Regions from separate parts of the Homo sapiens genome. Here all the other regions are linked to region 2. The links come from fine-mapping of genetic effects on gene expression. A gene starts in region 2. Each other region holds a variant in brackets. All regions are shown on one strand. Distances are from middle to middle. Region 1 holds the start of RBM25 (RNA binding motif protein 25). Region 2 holds the start of ZFYVE1 (zinc finger FYVE-type containing 1). Region 3 overlaps DCAF4 (DDB1 and CUL4 associated factor 4).

Evidence for each region. PIP is the estimated chance that this variant, and not a neighbour inherited with it, causes the effect.
Region 1: its variant is the best candidate, but not a certain one, in a credible set for the expression of ZFYVE1 in skeletal muscle (FUSION, PIP 0.59).
Region 3: its variant is the best candidate, but not a certain one, in a credible set for the expression of ZFYVE1 in nasal epithelium (TOPMed, PIP 0.59).

The regions. Positions count from the first base shown.
Region 1 is chr14:73,053,698-73,060,250 of GRCh38, reverse strand. It overlaps RBM25 (RNA binding motif protein 25), which reads right to left and starts at 1,717. Exons shown (of 19, transcript NM_021239.3): 1 at 1,546-1,717. It overlaps RBM25-AS1 (RBM25 antisense RNA 1), which reads left to right and starts at 798. Exons shown (of 2, transcript NR_184256.1): 1 at 798-975; 2 at 1,494-3,421. RefSeq lists enhancers at 1,613-2,152, 1,205-2,404, 1,476-2,440. The variant AGAAAT/T (reference allele first, on the strand shown) is at 3,098.
Region 2 is chr14:73,023,808-73,030,360 of GRCh38, reverse strand. ZFYVE1 (zinc finger FYVE-type containing 1) reads left to right here and starts at 3,255. Exons shown (of 12, transcript NM_021260.4): 1 at 3,255-3,435; 2 at 5,419-6,335. The coding sequence starts at 5,853. RefSeq lists an enhancer at 2,913-3,112 and a silencer at 3,343-3,552.
Region 3 is chr14:72,933,020-72,939,572 of GRCh38, reverse strand. DCAF4 (DDB1 and CUL4 associated factor 4) reads right to left here. Exons shown (of 14, transcript NM_015604.4): 2 at 1,503-1,602. The coding sequence starts at 1,594. Among named protein-coding and RNA genes, the nearest start is that of DCAF4, 9.8 kb to the right of the region's middle. RefSeq lists an enhancer at 1-150. The variant G/C (reference allele first, on the strand shown) is at 3,348.

The sequences.
Region 1 (6,553 bases), 30 kb before region 2:
TCTGGCCAACATAGTGAAACCTCGCCTCTATTAAAACTACAAAAATTAGCCGGGCGTGGTGGCGCGCGCCTGTAGTCCCAGCTACTCAGGAGGCTGAGGCAGGCGAATCGCTTGAACCTGGGAGGCGGAGGTTGCAGTGGCCAAGATCGCGCCACCGCACTCCAGCCTGGGCAACACAGCAAGACTCCGTCTTAAAAAAAACAACAACACAAAACAAAAAAAAAAATTACAGAGTCAGGGTTGGACTCTTACATTTCATTGAAAATCCTTAAATAACAAATTATGTCAATATAGATTTAAATGCTTATGTGTGTTACCTGGATACTGCACGAAGGATTTTACATACGTTTTTCTCAATCCCCAACCCCAATAACGTATAGATACTACTATAAATTCATTTTACAGAGGAACAAAAACCAAAGCTTAAAAGAAAAAAGAAAAAGAAAAACCAAGGCTTTAAGTTAAATGAATTAGAATACTATAAGATTCACTTGAATCATGAGTAACTTATGACCAACTTAATCCCTTTCAAGTCCTCTGAATGTTTTTGGAAATAGCCTTTAAAAAAATTAAAAGCTCCAAAGACTATACAAAAATTATTTATACATTACTGCCCACGGCCTAATACACAGAGTACTTCACACTAATACAGCAGTAGGGTGCAACAGAGGTCCAATCTCTTCCCTTCTCTTGGCTCCACTCTGCCCAGTATCAAAATGGCATTTCCATGGCAATACAAATCCATATTACATAACCTCCGAAAAATCTTCATAGTCCTACGTCTATTCCGGAAAACCGTATTTAAAAGCAGGATTGACGACCAAAGAAAAATGAGAAAGTAACATTTTAATGTGGAGCTTAGTAATCGCCTAGAATGAATGGCGATATACAGTTTACTGCACCCTCCAATGCGCAAAAGAGGCAGGATGGCAAAATTCATGACTATCTTAAGCAAGCCAGGAGACTGCTAAAAAGGTAGGTATTAGCTCAATTCCAAGGGGGTGGGGCCCAGTTCACTTGGTGGCGGGCTCTAGATGGCCAAAGAGGAAGGGAAAGATATCCGTTGGTGGCCAGCACCTCGCTAAAAAGGGTGGGTAGAGGCTAACTTCAAGGCAACGGCTGGGGCGAGAGTGTCCCAGGCCCGAAAACCTACTGTGGGGCTCCGGTAAGTAAGGGGGCTCAGGGAAGGGCTCCCCTGGGGCAGATCGATCGTTTTGTATCTAACGTGGAGCCCAGGGGGGGCAGAGACGATTCACTCCGCGGCGGAACGTGGAAGGGAAAGGGAAAGTGGGCGACAATGCAAGACGGAAAGCTCAAGCCGTAGGTCTGGCCTCCACCAGCTACGGCTGGGCCCACAGCTTTTCCAGGCCTTAGAGAAGAGAAGAAACCAAGCCTCGTGCCGACCCCTCCCCCACCCCCGCCTCCGCGCTCCCCCTTACCTCTACCCCACCCTGGCGCTTTCGCAGCCACCCCGGCTTTTCCTCCTCCACCAGCTGAGGCACCCGGTCTCCCGGTTTCCACACGCGTTCAGAGACACAAACTCACCCGCCGCTGAGGAAACGGTACTGCCTTCGCGACCTTCTGGGATCCAGGTTACGAGTGCGCTCCACTGGTTCGAGATTTCTGCCCGTCGCTCGCCAGGGAGACTGAGTGCCCAAGCGCCTACTCGCACAGGCCGCAAATACAGCCGCGCTGCGCGGCGAGCTGATGGAGGTCTTCCTCTTGCCCGGCGTGCACTGCGGCCGGGGGCGGGGAGCGCGGAACCATAGAGAAGAACGTATATAGATCGTCTCCGCTGTTGGCTCTGACTCACCAAGCCGAGACGAATAACCATAGAGAAGCAGCGTCTAGCGGTTACTAGAAAGGCCCGAACTGTAAATTATGACCCACCATGTTTGATTGGAGCCGACTGAATCTTACGACTACGGGACGCCATCTTGAGGTCAAGGTTCCGGCTGGGCACGGCGCGAGGAGTGTTAGAGGCTTTCTCACTTTTCGTAGTTTTTCGGGGGGTGGAACCTTGCTTTGTGATTCCTTGAGGTTCGAGGAACTGATAACTGGGCGCGATCTGCAACCTTAGTGTTAAACCCCAAGTGCTGTTATAACAACTACTCGAGATCAACAAATAATTGGCAAAGGCTGTGGAGGTTTTTTGAAAAGCAAAAGCTTATGCGTAGTTGTAGGGCCAAAGAGGTGGCTAGAAGATGTTTGGAAAAACGTGAAAAGTCCTGTAATACTAGTTAACACAGCTTTCGTTCTGTAATCTAAACGTGCTAAAAGAACTTAGCTTAAGTTAATGGAAATGAATAAAATTAATCATAAATGATTACGTTATTCCAATTGTGGACCTTATAGGCAATATCTAGTTACACGCCTTTCTCAACTGCTTGCCTCTAGGAAGGCATAAAACGGATTCAGTATAAAGTTATTGCCTCCCTGAGTTCCTGGTGCTGTGTTAAGTGCTGGAAGTATGAAGGCAAATGGAAGTGAGATTTGTTCCTGTCCTGCAAGAACTGTGAGCCAGGTGAAATAGATGACAAACCATGACCAGCCTAATATAAAATTGAAACATACTACACACTTCCTGCCTGCCTCCCCTACTTAATTTTACTCTAAAGCACTCATAACCATCTATCATAACATACATTTTTCTTGCTGATTTTATGGTCCGTCACTACCCCCACTAGAATGTGAATGTAAGCAATGCATGGATTGCCTGTTTTGTGCAAGAACAGGTCCTGGTACATAGCAAGCGCTCAATAAATATTTGTTGAGTGACAGAAATGATTACCGGCCGGGCGCGGTGGCTCACGCCTGTAACCCCAGCACTTTGGGAGGCCGAGGCGGGTGGATCACCTGAGGTTAGGAGTTCGAGGCCACCCTGGCCAACATGGCAAAACCCCGTCTCTACTGAAAATACAAAAATAAACTAGGCGTGGTGGCAGGCGCCTGTAATCCCAGCTACTCGGGAGGCTGAGGCAGGAGAATCGCTTGAACCCTGGAGGCGGAGGTTGCAGTGAGCCGAGATGGCACCACTGCACTCCAGCCTGGGCAACAAAGTGAGACATTGTCTCAAAAAAAAAGAAAAGAAAAGAAA[AGAAAT/T]GATTAACATATGATGAGTACCAATAGAACACAAAATTTAGTGGGAGCACAAATGAGAAAGTAGCACTAATTACTACCATCTGCAAAATTTACATCCTTCTATACTTCTGCTTGCTAGGTTTCCTTACCATTAACTAAAGTTAATAATACCTTTGGCCGTGCGTGATGACGAGTGCTTGTAGTCCCAGTTACTTGGGAGACGAAATTAACTTATGTATGTTTGTACTTTGTTCAGTAAAGTGCTATTCAAATTTATAGTTTTTATAGTGCTACTCTATAATGCTATTTATTGTTTGTAAATAAAATGAGTTTCTTTTTTTGTTTTGTTTTGTTTTTGTTTTTTGAGGAGGTGTCTCTGTTTCCCAGGCTAGAGTGCAGTGACGTGATCTTGGCTCACTGCAATCTCTGCCTCCCAGTTCAAGCGATTCTTGTGCCTCAGCCTCCCCAGTAGCTGGGATTATAGGCGTGGGTCACCATACCTGGCTAACTTTTGTATTTTTAGTAGAGATGGGGTTTCACCATGTTGGCCAGGTTGATCTCCAACTCCTGACCTCAGGTAATCCGCCCACCTGGACCTCCCAAAGTGCTGGGATCAAAGCTGTGAGCCACCATGGCCGCCCAAGAGTTTGTGCCTATTTACAACAAAAGGCATAAACAGAAATCTCAGATTAATCTGTGTCCCTTTTTATTATTAGAAACATTGTACATGAATTTGTGTTTACTGTGTAATAAAGGGAGCCCTCAGGCAACAATTTGCTAACTTTCCTACCTTAGACAATTTGTTGCTGATGTTCATGCAGCATCCATTCCCCTTGCCTTTAGTAATGAACCCTCCACATTTTTTAAAAGAAACCATCTTGGCCGGGTGCGGTGGCTCACGCCTGTAATCCCAGCACTTTGGGAGGCCGAGGCAGGCAGATCACGAGGTCAAGAGATCAAGACCAGCCTGACCAACATGGTGAAACCCCGCCTCTACTAAAAATACAAAAATTAGCTGGGCTTGGTGATGTGTGCCTGTAGTCCCAGTTACTTGGGAGGCCAAGGCAGGAGAATCGCTTGAACCTGGGAGGCAGAGGTTGCAGTGAGGCGAGATTGCGCCACTGCACTCCAGCCTGGGCAACAGAGCAAGACTCTGTCTAAAAAAAGCCAGGTGCAGTGGCTCACACCTGTAATCCCAGCACTTCAGGAGGCCGAGGCGGGTGGATCACCTGAGGTCAGGAGTTCGAGACCAGCCTGGCCAACATGGCGAAACCCTGTCTCTACTAAAAATAACAAAAATTAGCTGGGCGTGGTGGCAGGCACCTGTAATCCCAGCAGCTCAGGAGGCTGAGGCAGGAAAATCGCTTGAACCCAGCAGGCAGAGGTTGCAGTGAGCCGAGATCGCGCCATTGCACTCCAGCCTGGACAACAAGAGCAAAACTCGGTCTAAAAAAAAAAAAAAGAAAAGAAACCATCCTTCCACTACTCCAGATCCATGTACTTTGGATAGGAAGTCCCAACTCTAACCAGACCCCCTTAGGACACAGGAGTAAACTTACAACCTAATCAAAACCTGATGATTTAGTCACCCCTCCCTTTTTTTTTTTTTTTTTTTTTTGGTACTAGCCACTGTTTAAAGCATTTTGCAAATATCAACTCCTTTAATCCTCATAACAACCCCCTGAAGTAAGAACTATTGTGATACAAATGAAGAAACCAAGGCTTGCAAAAATTAACCTATCAAAGGCTACAAAAATAGTAAGTGAGCCAGTCTGGTTCCTGAGTTCGTGCTCTGGAACATTATACTGCTTCATCCTTTCAGGAATAATCCTAAAAAGAAGGGGAGGGGTCTCTATATTTTTCATTTAAATTGATTTTTTTTTTTCAATTTAAGCTTAGGAGGATTTAAGCTTAGAATAGATGGGGATGAGAATGAAATCACAGAAGAAAGCAGAAGTAAGACAGGGTGAGAGATTTTTGACAATATCAGTTGAGAAAATGGTTCATTCATTCATTTTGTTTGTTTTTTGGTTTGTTATTGCTGTTGTTATTTGAGATAGGGTCTCCCTTTGTTGTCCCGGCTAGAGTGCAGTGGCATGATCACGGCTCACTGCAGCCTCAACTTTCCAGGCTCCAGCGATTCTCCCACCTCAGCCTCCCAAAAGCCAGGATTACACTGAGCCCGGCTGGCTCAGCTACTCCTAAAGCCAGCTGTTCTAGGCTTATCAGTATGTAACCCAATACATTACTTTTCCGAAATCAGTTTGAGTTGAGTTTTCTATTCCTTACACAGAAAGAACTCTAAATGATACACTTATATACCACTTGTAGAGAACAAGCCAAGCCATTCATTTGCGATGCCAGTTATCCTCCTTCTATTTTTTTCTTACAAATCCTTGCTAAGGAAACTGTAGATAATTAATTTGGATATTACATTCTGTGTGCATTTGGACACCATTCTTTTTTTTTTCTTTTTTTTTTTTTTGAGATGGAGTTTTGTTCTCATTGCCCAGGCTGGAATGCAATGGCATGATCTCGGCTCACCGCAACTTCCGCCTCCCAGGTTCAAGCGATTCTCCTGGCATAGCTTCCCAAGTAGCTGGGATTACAGGCACATGCCACCATGCCGAGCTAATTTTGTATTTTTAGTAGAGGTGGGGTTTCTCCATGTTAGCCAGGCCGGTCTCCAACTCCCGACCTCAGGTGATCCACCTGCCACAGCCTCCCAAAATGCTGGGATTACAGGCATGAGCCACCACACCTGGCCTGGACCCTATTCTCATTGGCCACATCTGACCCAACTAAACAGCAGCATACCAGGAAAAATGTTGTTTAGCTGGAACTGAGCAGATCTTCTCAAAAATTGAAACTGGAGCCCAGCACAGTAGCACACACCTGTAGTCTCAATCATGAGGAGAGAGGATTGCTTGTGTGTGTGTGTGTGTTTGCGTGTGTATGCATGGCCATCATTATATATATATATATATATATATATATATATATATACACACACATAAATACATATACATACATAAATATATATATATATACAATGCCATTATATAGTATATAATGGCATAAAATATATAAATATAATACATATAATGCCATTATATATATAATATATGTGAATATATATAATATATATGTGTATATAGAGAGAAGAAGATAGAGAGAGGAAGCACATTAACACAGAATCTAGAGATCAAGGCTGGACTACCCAGCAAGGTGGAGTAACTGAAGTTTACCAAGTTAAGTCAGGACTCTGAAAGGATGTTAAAGTGCTCCCTTGTTAGTAATAGTCCTAGGCTCTTGACAGAAGCAAACATAGTTCCCATGGAGAAAAGAATCCCTAATTTAGGCTTCAGGATTCTGATATCAAATGTGAGCTTAAAATTTAAAAATGCAGGCCAGGCATGATGGCTCACGCCTGTAATCCCAGCGCTCTGGGAGGCTGAGGCGGGTGGATCAC
Region 2 (6,553 bases):
ATCTTGGCCAGGCTGGTCTTGAACTCTTGACCTCGTGATCCACCTGCCTCGGCCTCCCAAAGTGCTGGGATTACGGGCATGAGCCACTGCGCCCGGCCCTAGAAGTTGTTTTTAGAAAACAATTTCTCAGCCATGTTTCATAATCCAACCATTGGCTCTCTGCCCAATATTGAAAATATAATTTTCAGCAATTTAATCCTCATATATGGGTCATTATTATGTAGATTTGATTTTGCTAGTGGTTTACTTATGTCCCTGGAATCATAAGGTAAAAAGTATTGGACTTCAAGTCAGCAGATACAGTCTTGTCCCAGATTTGTCAATAATTTGTTGTGTAACCCTGGCAAGTCACTTAATCTTAGTTTTCTCTTCTGGGTTAACAATTATCAAGATAGAATCATAGTATGTTGGAATTGGCAGGGACTTCATTAATTACAATTTCTATTTTGTGGAGAGGTTGAGTGACTTACCCAACCACCTGTATAGTCAGGACGTTTTCTTTCTTTCTTTCTTTTTTTTTTTTTTGAGATGGAGTCTCTCACTCTGTCACCCAGGCTGGAGTGCAATGGCACGATCTCGGCTCACTGCAACCTCCAACCCCCGGGTTCAAGTGATTCTCTTGTCTCAGTCCCTCTAGTTGCTGGGATTACAGGTGCACGCCGCCATGCCTGGCTAATTTTTTGTGTGTGTGTGTGTTTTAGTAGAGATGGGTTTTTACCATGTTGCCCAGGCTGGTCTTGAACTCCTGAGCTCAGGCAATCCACCCGCCTCAGCCTCCCAAAGTGTTAGGATTACAGGCGTGAGCCACTGCGCCCAGCCTCTTTTTTTTTTTTTTTTTTTTTTGAGATGGAGTTTTGCTCCATTGCCCAGGCTGGAGTGCAGTGGCACAATCTTGGCTCACTGGAACCTCTGCCTCTGGGGTTCAAGTGATTTTCCTGCCTCAGCCTCCAGAGTAGCTGGGATTACAGGCACATGCCACCATTCCCAGCTAATTTTTTGTATTTTTAGTATAGTCATGGTTTCACCATGTTGGCCAGGACCTCAAGTGCTCTGCGTGCCTTGGCCTCCCAAAGTGTTGAGATTACACACAGGAACAACCACACCAGGCCTTCAGGAGCTTTTCTAGAGCAAGCAGTCAATCTTTGGCAACACAGACTCAGGCTTTCTTTCAATGTTGTTTCAAGAAACAAACAAAAAGTGAAAGCACTAAACAAATATAAGGCCATAAAAAAAGAAAAAAAAGCCTGATAAATGTTAACCATTAGCCTGCACTGTAGCCTGAAAACTTATCTGAAAATTTAGCCCATCTAACGCAAAGAAAATTTCTTTCTTTTTTTTTTTTTCTTGTTTGAGACAGAGTCTTGCACTGTTGCCCAGGCTGGAGTGCAATGGTGCGATCTTGGCTCACTGCAACCTCTGCCTCCCGGGTTCATGTGATTCTCCTGCCTCAGCCTCCCGAGTAGCTGGGATTACAGGTGCACACCACCACACCCAGCTAATGTTTTGTATTTTTAGTAGAGATGAGGTTTCACTATGTTGGCCATGCTGGTCTTGAACTCCTGAGCTCATGATCCGCTCTCCTTGGCCTCCCAAAGTGCTGGGATTACAGGCATGAGCCACCGTGCCTGGCCCTCAAAGATAATTTCAAATTGAGAAGTTCTGAAAGTATAATAGCTTTTTTTTTTTTTTTTTTTTGAGACAGAGTTTCCCTCTTGTTGCCCAGGCTGGAGTGCCATGGCGTGATCTCGGCTTACTGCAACCTCTGCCTCCCAGGTTCAAGCAATTCTCCTGCCTCAGCCTACCGAGTAGCTGGGATTACAGGCATGCATCATCACGCCCGGCTAATTTTGTATCTGTTAGTAGAGATGGAGTTTCTCCATGTTGGTCAGGCTGGTCTCGAACGCCCGACCTCAGGTGATCCGTCCACCTCGACCTCCCAAAGTGCTGGGATTACAGGCATGCGCTACCGCGCCCAGCCTGAGAAGTTCTGAAACTATAGAAGGAAAGATCAGAAAAATAATAGGTAGGAAAAAAAATTCATGGTTGGCTTGGAGAATACCCTTGAAGGGTGTTAAGTAAAAATGATAGGAGGCCTTTGTTTTGGACTAAACTCCTGCACCAGGCCCCAATAGACCTGGCTAAAATAAAAATGGAGTCACCCATGCTAAAGTTTCACCTCACCAAATCCAAACTAAGTTGTTACCAAACCCAAGCTAAGTTGTTATCTGACCTTCAGAGAAATCAGGAAAGAGGGATAAGGACAGCCAGTTTCCCAAACAGGCTTGTTTTAATGTTGCATGATAATGAAGCTCCCTCTGTTGTAATCCTTACACAAAAGAAGTAGCCTGAAGTAACTGATGTCAACTAATCAGTTATTTTTCTATTGTTCTGTCTCTCTGTCCTCACCTTCCAAGGAAAGTAGCTTAGAAGTGACCAATATGTCAAGGTCCCATGAGAAGACTGAAAAAAAGAGAAGAAAGAGGAAAGAAAAGAATGACAAGAAAGAGAAAGAAAGAAACCAATATGCTCTTTGTTCTTTGCTTTTGCTTCCTCAAGCTTTTCTCTGTCTACAAAGCCAACCTCTCCTGCTCAGCTCATCAGAACATTCACTCCACTTTCTGGAATGAAGTGTTGCCTGATCCTAGAGTCGCAATAAAGCCAACTGAGATCTTAAAACTAAATTCGTTGTAATTTTGTCCTTTGCCAAGGGGGGAAAAACAACAAAAACTTCCCAAGAGTACCTATATCCTCTTATCACTTTTTCTGGTCTTTTCCTTAGTTTTTGCGAAGTGAAATTGGGAAGGTGGAGACTGTCTGTGCTCACACGTTTCTGAGGGAATGGTGTGCAAGAGGTTACTTGAATCCAAATTAATTGACTCACCATTTCCCACTTATACTAGACATTATTACATCAGTTCTCTAATGTAGCACCATGCCTTCCCCAGTTACAACCCAAAAGAACGTGCTGAAACCTGCGGACACCACACTCAATGCAAAAACTCCAAGTCCCGAAATCCTCCGTAGCCTGTCCCCACCGCCTCCTCGCAAGAGCAGCCTCTTCAGTACTGGGAGTTGTAGTCATTCAGAGTCTTCCTTTCCGGGATGAGGGGCGAGAGCGCGCCTCGAGGAGCTACATCTCCCAGGAGGCAGTGCGCACTACGCCCTTGCTGGCGCCGGGATCCTCCCTCTCTCGCTCCTCCCTTTCTGGGCTGCACCGCTCACGCCTTCCTGTTAGTCCGAGCTGGGAGAAGTTCACTCCGATCAGCTGATCCCAACTGACAACAGGAGAGGAGGAAGCCCGGGAGGCAACGAAGGAGGAGGGTGGCGGAGATGGAGATGAGGATGGATCTGCCGGTGTCCTGAGGAATAGCCTCTGCCCCCACTGGCGCCCTGCGGCCCCCCGACGCCGCCTTGCTGCGGCCGAGCTTCTCAGTGGTGGGATCCCCGGGCCGCGGCGGGCAGGGCAGGGCGGGGAGGGCACGGCCCAGCGCGGGGCGAGTGATCGTCCTGGGGCTCAGGCTGCCCTCGGGAGGAAGGGGGGGCGGGTGCGGCGGGGGTGGGGGTGGGGTGGTATAAACAATGGATTCGGCTCCGGGTTTTGCCGGCGTGGGGGGGATTTTGGGGGACCTTCTTTGTTCTTAGGCTCCGCTCCTGCCCCTCGGGTTGTGGCGGTGGTGTCCGGGTGGAAGGAAGGGTGAGGAACCCCCGGCTGGGGAGAGGTGTCGAGGTGGGGGCCCGAGTGGGCAAAATGTTTGGTTGACATGGCCGGGCGTGAGGTGTACTTTTGAAGGTTGATTTTATATTTTTCTCAATTGTGACAAGTTTGATTTTTGTTTCTGTTTTGGGAGCTGGCTGGGCATGTCTGAGGTTAGATTGTAGTAAATAAGATCCCCTAGTCACTCCCTTCGCCTTCCTTGTTTATCTGAAAATAAGGTTGATAGATTGATTACTGTAGGGGAGGAGTGACTATCAGAAAGGCAGGGCTTTACACCTTGTCGGGGCCTTGGAATGCGGGTCAAGGCTAGGGGGAATTAGGAATATAATTGTCAAAGTGACAAAAGCCCCTTTCTTGCCCCAGTTATCTTTTTTCGTATTTTGAAGTTATTTTTAAGTTAGTTTTTAAGTGACAAAGAGAAAAATTATTTGTTTTGATTCACTGCAGGCCTGGCTTTGCCATGGGTCAAAGTAGAGGAATTGTCTCCTGTTGCTCCTTTTTTTTTTTTTTTTCAGTTAGTGAAAGAAGGGACAGAAGAATTACAGTGTAAAAAAATTGTTTTTAAAGATGAAATTGTTACTATTGTTTCTAAGTTTTGAGTCTTTAATATACATCTAGCTAGAGTTGAAACAATCCAGTTACAAGGCTAACCAGGTCGGCCCAGGTATTTGATAGATCTAAAGTTTATTATTACATTTTCATTAGCTTTGTGAAGGCCTCTCCACTCCTCCCAATTGTGGGATGCATGTGGGGGTGCAGAGGGCTGTCCTTCCAAGGACTACTCACTTAGTGATTTAGATTCTGAATTTAATATCTGAATGAACAGAAAATTCCAGTCTGGGAAATAGAGCAGCAAAGTCTCTTAAATGCCTTGGGCCTAGAGGTGGCGTTTGTTGTCAAGAGGAGGAGCTTTAGCCACAATTTTGAGATTTTTTTTTTTTTTTTTTTTTTTGAGGGAGTCTTGCCCTGTCTTCCAGGCTGGAGTGCAGTGGCAAGATCTTGGCTCACTGCAACCTCCGCCTCCTGGGTTCAAGTGATTCTCCTGCCTCAGCCTCCCTAGTAGCTTGGATTACACGTGCCTGCCACCATGCCCAGCTAATATTTGTATTTTTAGTAGAGATGGGATTTCACCATGTTGGACAGGGTAGTCTCGAACTCCTGACCTCAAGTGATCTGCCCACCTCGGCCTCCCAAAGTGATGGAATTACAGGTGTGAGCCACTGCGCCTGGCTATACAACAAGCCAGTGTAAGTGTTAAGATAGAAAATGAGATTTCTGGCCAGGTGCGGTGACTCACGCCTGTAATCCCAGCACTTTGGGAGGCCAAGGCGGGCAGATCACCTGGGGTCAAGAGTTCAAGACCAGCCTGGCCAACATGGTGAAACCCCGTCTCTACTAAAAATACAAAAATTAGCTGGGCATTGTGGCTAGCGCGTGTAATCCCAGCTCCTTGGGAGGCTGAGGCAGGAGAATCGCTTGAACCCGGGAGGCGGAGGTTGCAGTGAGCCGAGACTGTCCCATTGCACTCCAGCTTGGGCAGCAAGAGCAAAACTCTGTCTCAAAAAAAAAAAAAAGAAAAAAAAGAGGAATGAGATTTCTCTCAGCAGTTCTGGGCTAATATTTAATTTAGTCAAAAAAAATTTTTTTAAAGGTGCACTTCTGTTTTTTAGATGAGTGAAATCCTTTTCCTTCCTCTATTCTAGGTATCCCCTGAAATACTGACTTCAGGTCGAATTATATTGAAAAGCTCCTGACCACTTTCTTTCATTACCAAAACTTTGTAGCTGATGTCCAACCGATGAACCCACCACCGTGAACCCATCAGACCTCTCTCAGATAGCCATAAAAGACCCTTCCAAGTCAATTTTGACCACATCTTTGCTTGCACTTTATGGAGGATGAAACCATCAAACCAAATCAACGTTGCTGCTAATACAAGAGTCTTAGAGGCAGCAAATTAAAAATTTGAACATTTGTTTGTGAAGAACTATAACAGGACATGAAAGGTGTTCTTTTTTAAAGTGTTCAGAACCCTGTGGAAGTTTCGTGCAGTCTTCAGACTCAAATCTTCGTCTTCACCCCCGGGGCAAGCTCAGTGACTATTATATGGTGGGTGTGTTTCCTTACCAGCGTGAGTATGAGTGCCCAGACTTCCCCAGCAGAGAAGGGCCTGAATCCGGGGCTGATGTGCCAGGAAAGTTACGCTTGCAGCGGGACTGATGAAGCTATCTTTGAGTGTGATGAGTGCTGCAGTCTGCAGTGTCTCCGCTGCGAGGAGGAGCTCCATCGGCAGGAGCGCCTGAGAAACCATGAGCGGATAAGACTCAAACCTGGCCATGTCCCTTACTGTGACCTCTGCAAGGGTCTCAGTGGGCATTTACCAGGTGTTAGGCAGAGGGCAATAGTGAGGTGCCAGACCTGCAAAATTAACTTGTGCCTGGAGTGCCAGAAGAGGACTCATTCTGGGGGTAACAAAAGGAGACACCCTGTTACTGTGTACAATGTCAGTAATCTCCAGGAGTCACTGGAGGCAGAAGAGATGGATGAGGAGACCAAGAGGAAGAAGATGACTGAGAAGGTTGTGAGTTTCCTCCTAGTAGACGAAAATGAAGAAATTCAGGTAAGCACACGGGTATAGTGGGATTCATGTGTAGTGGAGCAGATCTGTTGTTGGAAGCCAGCTCTCAAAAAACGATGTCCAAGAAGAGATCACATTTTAATCATTAAAAGGCAAGACCTCTGGAGGCTTTAGTTGCATGGAGTCAGATTTAGTTACCAGCTGCATGACCTCTGGCCGAATTACTTTACTTTTCTGAGCCTTAGCTTTTTCATCTATAA
Region 3 (6,553 bases), 91 kb after region 2:
CCCTCTTCTTATCTTCTCACTCGCGCATTTTGTGAGGTCTTGTGGAATTTTCCAGATTAAAAGGAAAAATAGAAATCTCTGCCAATAAGAATTTTACCAGCTGGGCTCATTTGTCAGCACAACAGCAGTTACAAGGCTAGGTGAATTTCATTCTTTATTGGATTCAGTAGCACAAAGAGTTTAAATTTTACTTGACTACACAATCTTACAGACAGAGAAACTGGGGTTTGGGGGACAGAGGTGATTAGTTCAGTAACACTGGGATAGAGCTGCGGCTAAAACACTTGATTTGTAAATCCACAAGTAGCTTCTGAGGGAATTATAGGCTGAAGGATGTAGTAAAGGTGTGTGCCACCACACCCAGATAATTTTTATATTTTTAGTAGAGACGGAGTTTCGCCGTGTTGGCCAGACTGGTCTCAAACTCCTGACCTCAAGTGATCCGGCTGCCTTGGTCTCCCAAAGTGCTGGGATTACAGGCGTCAGCCACCACACCCGGCCCAGCCAACTTTATTTTAAAAATACATTTAATGTAGCCTTGGCCTGGGTGGTGGTTCAAGTCTGTAATCCCAGCACTTTGGGAGGCTGAGGCAGAAGGATCACTTGAGCTCAGGAGTTTGAGACCAGCCTGAGCAACAGAGTGAGACCTCATCTCTTAAATAAATAAATAAATGTAATGTAGCCTGGTGTACAGGGTTTTAAAGTCTACACTAGCATACAGTAATGTCCTAAGCCTTTGTGTTCACTCATCACTCACTCACTGACTTCCAGTCCCGCAAGCTCTGTTCACAGGAGTGTCATACATAGGTATACCATTTAAAAAAAAATCTTATATACCCTATTTTTACTGTATCTTTTCTATGTTGAGATACACAAATACCACTGTGTACTGACTGCCTCTAGCATTCAGTAGTCACATGCTGTACAGGTTTGCAGCCTCGGAGCAATTGGCTACACCATATAGCTTAGGTGTGTGTGGCTGGCTGTACCATGTAGGTTTGTGTTACGTATGTGCTATGATGTTTGCATGACACGACTGCCTAACAACATATTCCTCAGAATGCATTCCTCCTTGTTAAGCGAAGCATGAGTGTATATCCTTGTCCGAGACTTAGGCTGAATTAATAAAATTTGGTTTCCACAAAGGTATTTGCATAAAAAGTCTACAAAATGGAGAAACGGTTTTCCAGTTGTTTCAGATAACGTCTACCTCTAGCTTTATGGCGAATGCTCTGGCCAGAGGTCGTGGTCACTTAGGAAAGAACAGAGAGTGGTCCTCTCTCCTCACTACTCAGTGAGGTGGGCTGACCCACCAAAGCGACATGCCCTGGGAGCACGTTAGGAAGGCAGGCTCTCCTCAAGACCCCTCAGACCTACAGAATCAGAACCTGCATTGGGACGAGCCCCCAGGTGATCTCCACACCTGTGATCGTGTGACATGCCATGTGTACAATGCCAGAAGCACACTGGGCAAAAGTGGCTCCCCAGAGCGGCACACTTGCCTGTCTTCAGAATCACGGAGTCTGAACCAAGGGTTCTGCTGGTGGCTTCTTCTCCCATGTCGTCTTCTACTCTGCCAGCGACTTTTATTCATTTCTGTTCCTAAAAGAGAAAAACAAAAAAATCCATACATCTCTGTGTGTGGGCATGGGCTTTTCTGTTTGCTTCTTGGCAGCTGCTTCATGCTCAGCACCAGCAAAAGGCTGGCCCACCCTGGGTTATCATCAGATTTGCCACAGCAAGCCTTACCTGGGAAGGGCTGCCTCCAGCACTCCCCCAACATCCTTCCCACTTCCTTCCTGTTACCCTTAGTCGACCACATAGTTTCCTACCCCACAGAAACGTTGCCAGGTCGGCCAGGCGCGGTGGCTCATGCCTGTAATCCCAGCACTTTGGGAGGCCGAGGCAGGCGGATCACGAGGTCAGGAGTTCGAGACCAGCCTGACCAACATGGTGAAACCCCATCTCTACTAAAAATACAAAAATTAGCCGGGAGTTGTAACGTGCACCTGTAATCCCAGCTACTCAGGAGGCTGAGTCAGGAGAATCGCTTGAACCCGGGAGGTGGAGTTTACAGTGAGCTGAGATTGTGCTCACTGTAAACTGCACTCTAGCCTGGGCGACAGAGCAAGACACCATCTCAAAAAAAAAAAAAAAAAAAAGAAAAGAAAAATTGCCAGGCATGAAACCCCTAACTTCACTCCCTTCTGCTCCACAAATACCTGCCTTTACTAATTGTCTTCTTCCTTGTCTTGGACAACAGGTATCACTGCTCCTTTTCAAGGGAGACCCATCCCACCTGGCTGTTGATTTCATTCCTTCCCAGGAACTGCAGACATCTATCTGTTCCCCCATATGTTAATGTCTCCTTCTCCTTATCTCAGCTTTTAAAAACATGCCCAGGTTTTTCATTTGTAAGTGTTCCATTTCTAATCCAAAAAAATGGGCATATTCTGAAAGAATGGTCTACATCTACGAATTCAATGTCTTCATCTCCCGATATTCCTCAACCCACTGCAGTTGAGCTTCCTCTCTCCTCGCCTTTCTACTAAAATGCTCTTGCTATTGATTACCTACTTGCCAAAGTGAGTGGTCTCTTTTTAGCCCTTATTCCTGCAACATGTGGCACCAGGAGGCTACATTCTTCCTTTGGCTTCTGTAATATCTTTCTCTTGGTTTTCTTCTTGCTAAATAAATCCTTTGCTCATTTCTCCTGGGTCACACACCCTGTATGTGCTTTCCATTGTTCTGTCCTAGATCCTTTTCTTTTCAGACTTAACACCACCTCATCTACCAATGCAGATGCAGCTCCAACCCTAATATCGCTACTGAGCACCAAGTTCCTATGCTGCTTCGTGTCTATCTCCACAGACCCAACAGGTTCAAAAGTGAGTTCATGATTTCTCTCTAACCCCCGATCTGCTCTTTTGCCTGTCTATACCTCTCTTCTCTGAAAGCAATATCCCTGCCCCTGCAGCCCAAATGTGTGTGTATTTTTTTTTTTTTTTTGAGATGGAGTCTCGCTCTGTTGCCCAGGCTGGAGTGCAGTGGCGCCATCTCAGCTCACTGCAACCTCTGCCTCTCGGGTTCAAGCGATTCTCCTGCCTCAGCCTCCCGAGTAGCTGGGACTACAGGCACCTGCCACCACACCCAGCTAATTTTTGTATTTTTAGTAGAGATGGGGTTTCACCATGTTGGCCAGGCTGCTCAAGAACTCCTGGCTTCAAGTGATCTACCTGCCTCGTCCTCCCAAAGTGCTGGGATTACAGGCGTGGGCCACCAAGCCCGGCTCCAAAACTTTTATCTTATTCATTGTCCTAAACAATGGCTCCTGAACACCATGTGTG[G/C]GTTTCCCTATGGATCAGTTATCTTATACCCCAGCTAAAGAATACAGTTGTATTTATTAATAGTTAAGTTACAAGCTGAAAGGGACTGCGCACAGGAAGGGAAGCACGTGTGGCCAGTGTTAAGACTGGTAGGAAAATGGCTGCGTGCAGTAGCTCATGCCTGTAATCCCAGCACTTTTGGGAGGCTGAAGTGGGAGGATCTCTTGAGCCCAGAGTTTGAGACCAGCCTGGGCAATAGAGTGAGACCCCATCTCAAAAAGAGAAAAAGACTGATAGGAAAAATAAACTCTACTGACATAAAGATTATTATTATTACCAACTCTATAAAAAGGTCAAAATTTCTTTAGAGTGCATATTCTGTATATGAAATGATTCTAATTTGTTGAATTATGTAACAATGCATGAATACAGCAAAGAACACACGAACTGGTGAGTCAAAGACTTCAGATCACCCACAGGAGGCAGGACTGTGTCCCACTCACACCATTATTCTCAATAGGGGGCTGCACAATCAGCAGGACGCAGCCGATGATAAAATCACTGGCGAATGCCAATTTGGGCCAGGGAGAGCATGTGTTCACCCCTAACTCATACAGGCACTGCAATCTGGTAAGGGAGCCTGCCAACCTCAAGTAATATAGTTAGCAAGGTCAAGCAAAAATCATTTTAAAGGCCGGATGTGGTGGCTCACGCCTGTAATCCCAACACTTTGGGAGGCCGATGCGGGTGGATCACCTGAGGTCAGGAGTTTGAGATCAGCCTGGCCAACGTGGTGAAACCCCGTCTCTACTAAAAGTACAACAGTTCACTGGGTGTGGTGGCTGGTGCCTGTAATCCCGGTTACTTGGGAGGCTGAGGCAGGAGAATCGTTTGAACCCAGGTGGCGGAGGTTGCAGTGAGCTGAGATTGCACCACCGCACTCCAGCCTGGGCAAAAGGGTGAAACTCCGTCTCAAAAAAAAAAATCATTTAAAAAGTCACATACTAATAGAAGCCTTCCAAATACAGTAAGAGTTTAAAGGCTAGGACAAAGACAGTACCTTTCTAGTACTTTTAAGAAGCCTGTTCAGGGGTGGGGAGTGTGTCTTCTCTAAACACAAACACAGTTCATTCTCTATGGCCGCTTTATAGTCCATGTTTGCACTCATCACTCTGCATGACTGTTTGTTCATACTCCCATCTCATACTGGACGTGAGGTGAATTCTGTAAGGCAAACATCCTACTTTGTTCTTTTTTCTATTCCTAGCATCCATGACCTAGTTGGTGCTTAGTAAATTTTTGCTGAACTGAAGCAAAGCAAAACAAAACCTGTGGCTACTTTACATTTAAGTCCCAGGTAGCTTCTTTCTGCTCTGGGTTATTTCCACTTACTACTCCACACACATTTACAAAGCGCCCACTCCATGTGAGGCACTGGGGAGTGGGCAGAGATAATAAGCTGTGCTACCTGGCTTGGAGGCACCGATTGTTTAATATGGGAGACAGATGCACAGACCAACCCCTGCAGCACAGGATAAGGATGAAGACCCAGGTCTCTCCAGGTGTGGTGGGAGAGAAGGGAGTGACTGCTCCACATGCCTGGGCTGGAGGTGGGGGAGGGAGATAAGTGCAGTCTGAAGAATGAAAATGTCAGGCAAGCCCGGCGTGGTGGTTCACGCCTGTAATCCCAGCACTTTGGCAGACTGAGGTGGGCAGATCACCTGAGGTCAGCAGTTTGAGACCAGCCTGACCAACATGACGAAACCCCAACTCTACTAAAAATACAAAAATTAGGCCGGGTGCAGTGGCTCACACCTGTAATCCCAGCACTTTGGGAGGCCGAGACGGGTGGATCACCTGAGGTTGGGAGTTTGAGACCAGCCTGACCAACATGGAGAAACCCCGTCTCTACTAAAAATACAAAAATTAGCCAGGCATGGTAGTGGGCGCCTGCAATCCCCACTACTTGGGAGGCTGAGGCAGGAGAATCGCTTGAACCCGGGAGGTGGAGGTTGCCGTGAGCCGAGATAGCGCCATTGCACTCCAGCCTTGAGCAACAGAGCGAGACTCCGTCTCAAAAAAAAAAAAAAGAAAATGCCACGTAAGGCAGTGGGGGCGGGGGGCCTGCAGGCTGTTTGGTATGGCCAGAGCCTGAAGTTCAAGAAATGGGGGGGATGAGCCTGCAGAGGCAGACAGGGCATGATCATGAGGACTCTGGGTGTGCGAGGAGTGACATGATTAGAGCTGCTAAGAAAGGGCACCTGAAAGGCAGCGGCATGGGGTGACAAGTAAGAACTGCAGTGGCAAGCCAGGTGAGATGAACTCGCTTACACATTATGGACATGGTACTTGGGATAGCGGAGCCTGGATTTAGATTTAGGCAGCAAATTTCATGGGAGAGGTGGAGAGAGGAGTTGAGAAAGGTTAAGTGAATAACTGGTAGAGTCATGAGCAGGGAGACTAAGAATAAAGGAAGAACACTTTGGGGAGAGGAGAGTAAGTCTGATTTTGAACAAATCAATCTCAAGATGCAGGCAATGGGAAATACGGGTCTGAGAATACAGAGAGAAATTGAGCCTAAAGAGACAGATTTGAAAGTAAACAGGATATGGTGACATGGACTGGGACAAATGGCACCAAAGTGGTAATGGTATACAGTGAGAATTAGAGACTTTTTTTTTTTTTTTTGAGATGGAGTCTTGCTCTGTCACCCAGGCTGGAGTGCAATGGCACAATCTCGGCTCACTGCAACCTCTGCCTCCTGGGTTCAAGCGATTCTTCTGCCTCAGCCTCCCGAATAGCTGGGGCTACAGGCGCATGCCACCATGCCTGGCTCATTTTTGTATTTTTAGTAGAGATGTGGTTTCACCATAATGGCCAGGCTGGTCTCGAACTCCTGACCTTGTGATCTGCCCATCTCGGCCTCCCAAAGTGCTGGGATTACCGCACCTGGCCATTAGAGACAATTTTATCTAGTAATAATATAAAACCCAGTATGCATCACAGTTTGTAGATCAGTGCTTCTTAAGGATTATTTTGCCCACCAGGGGACATCTGGCAATGTCTGGAGACATTTTTGTTTGTCACAGCTCGGGAGAAGGAGGGGTAGGCTGCTACTAGCGCCTAGTGGGTAAAAGCCAGGGATGCTGCTAACCACCCTACAATGCGCAGGGCAGCTTCCACACATTCTTCAGCAAGAATTATCCAGGGCTGGGTGCAGTGGCTGA